Linked DNA regions of Homo sapiens. The protein of the gene in region 1 interacts with the protein of each later gene in a pairwise test. Each region holds a gene or a part of one and is shown on either strand. Other genes may lie near its edges.

What was found. Proteins that work in one complex are often made in the same cells at the same time.
Region 2: the proteins of GLP1R (region 1) and PAM interact in a protein complementation assay, tested with the Homo sapiens proteins (one study listed by BioGRID).

The regions. Positions count from the first base shown.
Region 1 is NC_000006.12:39,075,162-39,080,722, reverse strand, and holds part of GLP1R (glucagon-like peptide 1 receptor precursor), read right to left. Parts: intron 3,194-5,561; exon of another isoform or gene 2,810-3,193; intron 2,402-2,809; coding exon 2,341-2,401; exon of another isoform or gene 2,256-2,340; intron 1,827-2,255; exon of another isoform or gene 1,767-1,826; coding exon 1,697-1,766; intron 1,612-1,696; coding exon 1,523-1,611; intron 1,160-1,522; coding exon 1,021-1,159; intron 26-1,020; coding exon 1-25.
Region 2 is NC_000005.10:102,760,785-102,765,357, reverse strand, and holds part of PAM (peptidyl-glycine alpha-amidating monooxygenase isoform e preproprotein), read right to left. Parts: intron 1-4,573. UniProt on the Homo sapiens protein: Bifunctional enzyme that catalyzes amidation of the C-terminus of proteins. Alpha-amidation is present at the C-terminus of many endocrine hormones and neuropeptides and is required for their activity.

The DNA.
Region 1 (5,561 bases):
AGTATAATATGGCCACCATCAGCCCCTGGAAACAAGAGTCACATCAAGAGGGAGGAAGCAGGAGGGAGGTGCCCTGCAGACTGGCCCTGGTCGGAAGCACTTTGGGACTCCATCCTCAACAACCCCCTCCCCAAATCCAGCGGCCCAGGCAGATCCAGGAATGGGGCAGTGGCTTCCCTCTCATTTCCTTTCTGAAGGAACACCAGGGTTGCACCTCTGCGACTAGGCCTGGCTACAGGCCCCAGCTAGCCTCTCCCCATGGGTCTCCCAGGCATGTGCCATGGGGTCCAGGAGACCCTGCTCAGAAGCTGCCCAGAAGCTGTAGAGATCCTACATCCAACCTCTCCTTGAGGAGGCCTGATCCAGTGAAGTACAATGACTCTGATCATGGAGAATATTCCCCACTCCAGCCCCATCTGTTCATGAAGGAGACCCAGGGCTCCAGAATTGTGTTCTGTATGTCTGCACATGTATGTAAATACACACACATGAGCCCACATGTGTGCAGGCATCTCATGACACTCTTGAGGGGCAGGCAGGGACCAGTTTTTTTGTATTTTTACACCCCCTTAGCATCATCTAATGCTAGTGGAGAGGATCAGTTCTTTTCTTTGAAACTGTGACACCGTAACTCTGGTTTTAACACCTCTGAGTCTCCTCTGTAAAGTGAGGCTAACCCTGCACATCTCCTGGGTTCTGTGAGGAGTAAATGCACAATGCATGTAAAGCACCTGGCAGGGTGCTCGCCACCAAGTAGATGGCAGCTGCAATGCCAGGCTGGTACCCAGAGCTACATCCAGGAAGGCTTCTTGTCCCATGTGCTTACAGAGAAGACTGGCCCAGGTATTGGGACACCTGGGGATACTAGTTCTGGCTCTGCTCCAACTAGGTGACTTTGGGCAGGGATCACCCCTCCAGGTCCCAGTCTTCCCACCTTTTCCATCTGCATGATGCAGGCTGGTGTCTGTCCCACCCCCACTCTAGGACTTTACAAGCAAGTGTCCCCAAGCATGAAGTCACCTGGAAGGAGGTGAAGGAGAGCTCTGTAAACAGCTTGATGAAGCGCAGGGTCCCCCGGGCGTGCTCGTCCATCACAAAGGCAAAGATGACCTCATGAGTCCCCAGCAGGGGGATGAGTGTCAGCGTGGACTTGGCAAGTCTGAGGGGCAGGGCAGAGATCTCGAGTCATTCTGGACCTCTCCCATGGACTCTTCTTCCCTTTCTCTACCCTCCCCACTTCCTACCAAGTCCTGATATCTGGGTCATGGATGTTCTCCCACCCCAAATACCCTGGGACAGGCTGCCTGGAGGGAAAGAATAGAGGTCAAGACCCCAACAAGTCCAGGGGCTGCCCAGAGACAGGGCAAAAGCAAGGGTTTGGGGTCCAAGGCCAGGCCTGGGTGGAAGGAGAGGGTAGTGTAGGGCTCTAAGCTAAGCATCCCAGGATCTCTCTCTCTCTCTCTGCTAGAAGGAAAGGGGCACTTGCTGAGGGTCCTCAGTAAAGCCAGCTCAGTTACATCACCTGCATTTGATGTCTGTCTTGCACATGAGATTGGCCTTCAGTTTGGATACCACGATGCAGATGACCCGAACAAAGATGAGGAAGTTCACCTGCGGGGTGGGGCCGGGGATTGGCAGGGGGCACCAGCCCAGCCCTATCATAGCTGCCACTCCCATCCCTGACACCATCACTCACCCCAATGGCAAAGAGAATGGGCAGCCGGATAATGAGCCAGTAGTTCATGTTGGAGTTCCTGGTCCAGCAGCTGGGGAGGGAGAGAGATGCACACATGCATCCAGCAGGACTCACAGGACCCCCAGCTCAGGTGCAGGCACAGAGGCCGCCAATGCACATGGCCATGTTGAGTGCCACACACACAGCTCCCAGGAGCCACCCAAAAACCAGTCCCATGGACCCACAGAGCCCTGCCAGTGCACAGCCACACAACACACACGCATAGTCCAAATACACAGTCATACACAGAGATGCACACAGCCCCCAAACAAGCTTTCAAGGACCTACCAACACAGTCATGTGTGTACCCAGCATCATATACAAAATGACACAAACATTTCACTTGCAGATATTACAGAAAAACCTGCAGGAGGGCACCATGTACCCCACAGACCCAGTTCCGTTAGTCATCAAACAATCCTGGGACAGGGGCAGGGGCAGGGGCAGGGGCAGGGAGGGGAGATTAGAGAACTAAATTCACCTTCTAAGCTCCTGGTACCCCCCTTTATCCTCTCAACAGATGGGTGCCCCAGGTACCAAGGAATCCCATGGACCTTGAGGATGGGGACCTGGGCACACCCGCCCCCTTGGAGCAGGACACTCACCCCTCGTCCTCATAGAGGTACTTGACAATGCCCCAGGGGACAACAAACAGCAGGGGAACACCTAAGAGAGAGGGAAAGACAGAAGGGGAGAGGGGCTGGCAGGCCAGAGCCACAGTCTACATGCCGAGGCCTCTCCCTGCCCCAAGCCCCTCACACTTCCAGCCCCTCTCCTTGCCTGGCCTCCAACTATGTTTTCTAGTTTTTTTCTGGGCACCTGGGAGAACAGAGGCAGCAGGAGCCCCATGCGGACCCCCAGACTCTTCCTTACAGAGAGGTCCTCATCAGTCATCAGTCCCCCACCTCCTGTGTGCCAGGCACACTGTCAGGACTTGCCCTCAGAGTCCCGGCTAAGTTACCAGGCCACAGACACACAAACAGCAGCGGGACTGGGCCATGCGGTGGGGACAGCATGACGGATGAGGCAAGGAGCAGGCGAACCCTCTGATGCCCATTTTCTCTCTTGCTTCAGCCCACGTTGCCAGTCAACTCCTAAAGGCACTGGATGTCCTTTCAGTCATCTCTTCCCTACCACTGTGCACCTTCAAGAGGGCTCGGCAGAATCCTGGAATGGAGACAGGAGCCCAGTCCTTGATGCCAGCTGACCAACTAACTGTCCGCAGTGGCCTACAATAACAACAGCTACAACAATACTACTTTCCACTCGGCTGAGACTTGACTTGTGTAGTAGACAGCCTCTAAGATGGCCCCTAGGGATCCCCACCTCCTGTGCTCATACCCTTGGGTAGTTAGTCCACGTTGTATCAGCATTGTTTCATGTGACCCAGGAACCTCTGGCAGAAGTGATGGCATGTCACTTCTGATTGTTATAAAAGACACTGTGGCTTGTTTTGCATTCTCTTTCTCTTTCTCTGATCACTTGCTCTGGGGGAAACCAGTTGCCATGTGCTGAGAGAACTCAGAAGGCCTAGATGGAGGTCTCTGCAGCAAGAAATGGAGGCCTCCAGCCTTTGGCCAGCAACTGCGGCTTCCTGCCAACTGCCTCTTGAATGAGCTTGGAAGTAGATTCTCCATCCCCAGTTAAGCCTTGAGATGACAGCAACCCTGGTGACAGCTGGCTGCTTCTCTGAGAGTGCCCTGATCCTAGAAGGAGGTCTCAGAGAGAAGGGACAGCAGGGGGTGGGGGATGCCCAAGAAGGAAGTTTCTATATGTGTATGTGATTCAGGAAATCCACATGCTCTTGCCTAAAGAGTTTTCTCTGTGAGATCCTGAGCCACAAGGTACCCAGCTAAGTTGAACCGAGATTGCAGGCCACAGGAACTGTGAGATAACAATGGTTCGTTGTTTTAAGTAGCTAAGTTTCAGGGTTAATCGTTCTGCAGCAATAGAGAATTAATACAACTGGTTCCCAGTTCCTTGAGGGTAGAGCCTGGGCCTCACTCACCTTCAGAGCCTCAATGCCCAGATCACCCTGAGAGCTCAGGGTCTGTGTTGGTTGATTTAAAATTGGATTTTCCTTCCTCACATGACATATGAGGAGATGGATCAGGGACTCAGAAGGGCACAGGTGGGGCTCGAATTCAGGGCTGCAATCCCATACCCACTCCCACCGCCCTCAATGGCCTTCTGCACTGGCTGTCTCCATGCTCGTCTCCGTTGGCCCCTCCCTCAGTGTTGGAGATGTGTCTGAGATAGGTAAGCATGTGCATATTAAGGTATGTAGACATGTGTGTGTGAGGGTGTGGTGGGTGGACCATGAGTGTGCACGTATGACTTTGGGAATCTCTGCCTGGAGCACATTTCCAGGACAGAACCACTTCATAGCCTTTCCTGTCACCATTGTCTATGTCTTTAGCACATCAGTGTCCACTCAACAGCAGCTACTAAGCAGGTTGTGTGCCCAGATCTACTGTGCCTGATGATGCAGGGAGAGATGGAGGAGGCAAAGGAGCCCCCAGCGGACCAGCATTCTTCATCAGCTCTCTCTCTCCTGGCCCATTGATTTCTACACAAATCGGACCTCTCAGCATCTACGGTGCTTTAGTAACAGGCCTTTATGAGACTGGACAAGGAATGGGATGGTCTCCAAAGGCCCCAGCACATGGTACAGGCCCTGCCACATAGAAGATGCCCAGTGAGAATGGAACGAATGATGGGTGAGTCAACACACCAATAAGGGAAGGAACATTGTCTGGGCAAGAGCATGCCGATTTCCTGAACCACGTACACATGCAGAAGCTTCCTTCTGGGTATCCCTCGCCCCCTGCTGTCCCTTCTCTCTGAGACCTCCTTCCAGGATCAGGGCACTCACCCATGTTATCAGCCAGACCTGGCAAGTTTCACTCATCGTCAGCATTTCCTTAACAAGGCCTTTTCAAAAAACACAGTCACGAAAGCCCTGCTGCATGCAAACATTACGCACTCCCTGCTGGCTTCATCTTTCTCCCATTTAGAAAACGAGCAAGACAGGTTGGAGAAAAAAGCTCAAATTAAGACACACACAACTGGCTCCAGGAAGTAATGATTCCCTCAACCATCATTTGCCTCCCTCTTGCACAGCCTCCATGTGGGTTTCTACAGGCCCCCAACTGCCTGGGGACTGCAGCAGAAGCTGCCATGCCCTTTGGGGGACCTCTCCAACTGTGTCAGAGTCCTAATTTTAATTCTTCCACTTGCACATGAAGCTGAAAGTTGTTTCCCAAGTATCCCAGCTTGGGCAAGGCCTCCTGGCATCACGTCTGAGCTCCTAGCAACCTGTGAATCTCTCTCCGTCTCCCCCACCCCAATCCTCAAGAAAAAGGTGTTCTGATTAGAGCAGGGTGTCCTCCGGGTCTTGCCCTTGTGCTCCCACAGACCCCGAGCCCTGAGCTAGGGTGTGAGGTGGTAGGAAAAGGACTTGGCACTCCCTCCCCCATCTCCCACTCAGAGACCTCTAGGGCAGTGTGTCCCCACCAAACTCCAGCCACCCCCGCTCCTCTGCACACATCACACACGTCCCTTGATTGTTCCTGCCCTCGGGTCGCCATGGTGACAGGCACTAACAGCGCTGATGCTATTTCCTAGAATGGACAGACACCGTCCCCCACCCTGAAGACAGCCTTCCCTGAGCTGCCCTCGATGGCCTCCCTCCTCCTGCTCTAGCAGGAGGAAGAAGCCTCGGGGAGAAAAGGCCAAGGAAGGGACTGGGTTCTGGGAGTGGAGGAGGCAGGTGAGGAGCAGGGATCTGTGAGCAGGAGCCAGGCCTACCTGCCCACCTGTGCAG
Region 2 (4,573 bases), on another chromosome or scaffold:
TTTCTTCACAACTACACTGAATGAAAGAAGGGAGGCTTGGTATCTTCATCTTATTGACAAGAAACCTGAACGTTGACTGTTTTGGCCAATGTCACATATATACATGGCAGGGCAACTACTGGTGCCAAATCTTTTCTAGGAAAAATGAATACAATCATGAATATTTTAACTTGGAACAATGGTGGCACTTTAAAAGTAGAGCTTCTTCAAGTGACTCAAGGAAGGACAAAAATAACATCACATAGACTGAGTAGGCTGAGGGGTTCTGTGATCCAGGTAAGCTGGAATAAATCAGAAGAAACTGGTGGAAAAAATAACTCTTGAAGGAAGTGATGGAAATAGGCCAATAGAAAGAAAAGAGGCTTCATGATGAATAAAAACAATGCCAAAAAAGAAAAGAATAAATTATGTGGAAAGCCTAAACAAACATTAAAGGGAAGCCTTCAACTGAATAAGAAGTACAGAAAGGGTTGCAACAGCATGTGGGGTTGAAGTAAGATTGGGGACTTTTAGCTGGGCTGATGAAGGGATTGTCATTGACAAGACAGACAAGCAGTTACCACTGACAGTTTTTGAGCACGGTTTGCTGTTGTGGTAAAGGAAGCTGTTCTAGTAGCTGTGTTAAAATCAGTTTAGTGGCGGAGCAACCTGGGATTGTAGTTGATATAGTAAGGGACTTTGAAAAACTGATCAGGACTGAAGATAATGACCCCATATAGATGCTTTAAGTTTTAGCTACCAGCAAGACATTCTTAACACTTTTCTTCCCTCACGCCCCGTATTTCTGGACATACTGGCCTTCTTGGTATTCCTTGGTGGTGGAGGTATAGAGGCAGAGTTCCTTTGTTCCAGCCTCAATATCTTATACCTGTTACCGCTGCTTCGTAGAGAATCTTTGCACAGTTAGTTCCCCGACTTCATCTGGGTTTTTGCTCAAATGCTACCTCTTCAAGAGGTTTTTGTTGACCATCCTGTGTAAGAGGACCCTCTGCTATCATTCTCCATTCCCTTATTTGCCTAATTTTTCTTTACAGGACTTATTAGTACCTGAAATTATATATATATTTATTATATATATGTTTTTAATATATATGTTACACTTAATGATTATCTGTCACTCCCATTAATAAGTAAGCTCCATGAGTCCAAGGACATTTTATGTACTGTTCAGAGTTTTATTCCTAGAGCCTGGCACAGAGAGTAGCATAAAGTAGGGAGTCGCTAAATATTTTTTGAATAAATAAAAGAAAACCCCAACTTATTCCCGAGTTCAATTAATGGTATTCCCCCCAAAACACTTTCGATCTATCTTCACTGCCACTTCCCAGTATCCACCACCAGACTGGTACACACTGTCATGTCAAATTAAATTAATGCAAGAGCTACCCAATTTCACCCCACTGACATGCACACCCCAATCCAACTCACGCCCCCACAGATGATCTTACCAAAACACAAATCACATCAAGTCCCCAGCTCCGACCTAAAACACTCTCCTATGTTCTTATGAGGAAAACCAAATTCTTCATGTGGCCAGCAAGACCCTTTGTGGACTGGCCGGCCACCAGCCAAGGGGTCCAGCCTCACAGTAGCTCTTCTCTCCCCTTGATCTTCCTCAGTTACTTGATTTCATTCTGTTCCCTTCTGTAAAGGGCCTCTGCACAAATGGCAGTTCTCTCTGCTTTCTGGAACACTTTTCTTCCTACCCTATCTCACATTCTCCTACTCATACTTCAGATATCAATCAAGTGTCACTTCCTCAGGTTCCTATTATATAAGCCCACAAAATTCTACTGTTCTATTCAGAGCATTTACCTCTGCCTGTAATTATACATAATTATTTGTTGTTGTTGTTGTTGTTGCTGTCGTGTGTAAATTTTATTAGGGATTGTCTTCCTCCTATACTCTTCACTCCATGATAATGCAGACCAGGAATTTTTTGCTCATTATTGGATCTCTGGGGTCAAGAACAGTGCTAGGTACATGGCTGACACTGAATGAATATTTGTTGAATAAGTGAAACCCAAGAGCTAGAGGTCACTGTCAAATACATAGATAAAAAATTTTTCCACTAATACTGAGGTAAAGCTGGAGGCAAAGATATTAGTGAAAATCTATAATAGGACTTAGAGCTATTATTAAAACAGAAGGAGAGTGGAGGAACCCAGGACAATGCAAGCTGAAACAGTGCTAACTATCTACTGGATAATCATGGGACCAAGAGAGTCTGTTTAATTAGGGAACTAGACAAGAACTAGTTCAAATAATTTACTGACACCAGGTAGTTATGACTTAGGTAGTGACAGTAACTAGGTGAAAGGTTACATTTACATATCCTATTAACAGCTCCTTGACTCATCATCAGTCTGCTCTGGAAACATTTATCTGTGCAGAGAAACCATTAAAACTTTCCTCTCCTTGGCATTTTCTATTATAAAAATTCTGCAAAAAGTCCTTAGTTCCCTGGAAAATGTTTTAAAGGCATTTCACTCTGGTCGATTAGGCATACAGTAATAGCTAAGTGAGGCAGGGGCCACAGAGGAAATGGCATATAATAGAAAGAACCACTTCGCTCCTGATTAAAGTTACTCATGTGCAGCTTGAGAAAATGTACACACCAGAAAGCTCTGAGCACTACAGGGTATCACGGGTTAAAGGACAAGGCCTAATTTTTTTTTAACCCTCATTGTTACCGCTTTATTCCCCAAACACTAGAACCAATATAATTCTAAATTCTCCCCAGGGAAAGAAGGAGTTTATTAGCTTACTTTTATTTCCTTATTTCAGGCTTCTTTTAAAATAAGATGTAGCATTGATGAGCATGAAAAAAAAAATCTAATATTGCTTCCACTCATTGAAACCCATCAGTGACTCATGCAATAAACAGCAAGTCTCCTGGTTTTGTTTCTGAAGAGGGCACACCAACAGTTTCAACAGCATACTCCAGTTTTACTGGAAACAGTTCTCAAAAGATGACTTACCACACCCTGCCTGAGAAAGGACAGCATGAAACTGGGGAAAATTCTGATCTTCAGAAATACAACAGACAATGAGTATTTCCAATTTCATGCTGTTTATATGAAGAGAACAGAGGCACAAGGCAAGACAAGCCTGAAGCACAGGTAAGAACTGTGGCAAATAAAAGAGAAAGGAAAAATGAAAGCACACTGAACAAGTGACTTTACCAGATTCAGCAGGGCTGAGGAAGGGGAATTTGGGGGAGATAACCAGAGTTTTCTACCCCTACAAAAATAAGATTTCAAAACTCACAATTAAAAGAAAAAGACATTTAACAAAGTAACGTTTTTAAACTAAATGGGGAAAAATCTCACTAGTTAACAAATGCCTGCTTTATGCAAGGGACTCTACCTTTATACAAACCCTAATAGCATATGACCTCGGCTCTCCCAGAATTCACTGAATTTGAAAGGAATGTCTATGAAAATAAGGATTTGTTGATGTAATTAGTAATGTAAATAACAGGTATACATATAACCTACAAAAAGTTTTCTTTAAACACTATAGAAGCCTCCAGTTACATGCAACAATTATCATGCTATTCAAAATTAACTAATATCTTCATAAAAGTTCCCTTCAAAAGAGTTCTAAAAGATAACATAAGTGCTTAAAAATAATAAATTCTATCTTTAAAATATTCTAAACTTCAGACTTTTAAAAGCTTGAATTAATCTTTATATAAGTAAAATGTTACTGCACTACAAATGAGTACTATTTTAAAACAAACTTACTTTGGCATAAATAAGTGAAATTCTCAAGATATGAAATTTATAAGGCATTTTTAGCCACGGAAAAAGCAGGTAGTAGTATGATTCTTCCATAAGGGCCTCAGACTTTACTTTTATTTATTTCTACCACTGTTTTTGTTTTGCTTATGTTGTACATGCAGCAGTGAACTGTACACTCAATGCAGGTAAAAACCGTCCTTTGTTACTGCAACTGTTGGCTGGACCTATTATTCTTTGTGCATTTGCTTCCCAGTACTTGTGGCCCACACTCTCTACAAAATGAGCTTCTCCTATCTGATAGGGAAGCAGATCTGCTGCTTTGATTGTTTCCTTAATTCTGCGGTGTCATTTAAAGTTGTACTTTAAAGTATTATGTTTTATATTTTTTGAGTCCAGTTCCCTCCTTTCTTGAAGCTACCCTCTTAAACTCCCTGAACAAGAGCCATCTGGAAATCTTGTTCCTGTCCTCCATCCTTTCTGTGAGACCACACCAGCACAGCTGGGTTGCAGCAGGCACTGCCGAGGTGCTGCTGGACTGGCTATGCTCCAGACCCTCACTGTTAACATGCAATTCTTGTCCTTTTGTGTTAAGCATGGTTAGTAGACAAAGCTCAAGACAGTGTTCAGCAGTTCAATCTCCTTTGGGCACAGATCCTAATCTCACAATCACACATGATTTGAGTAACGCTGTTTATATGTAGAACTTCTGTTGCTACATGGTCCCAGTCTGCCCAGTCTCCAAATTGACAGTGTAGATACTTTTCCACTTTTCTTTTCCCCAAGAGGCCTGAACTAAGTACTGTATAGGTTATCCAAACAGAAATATT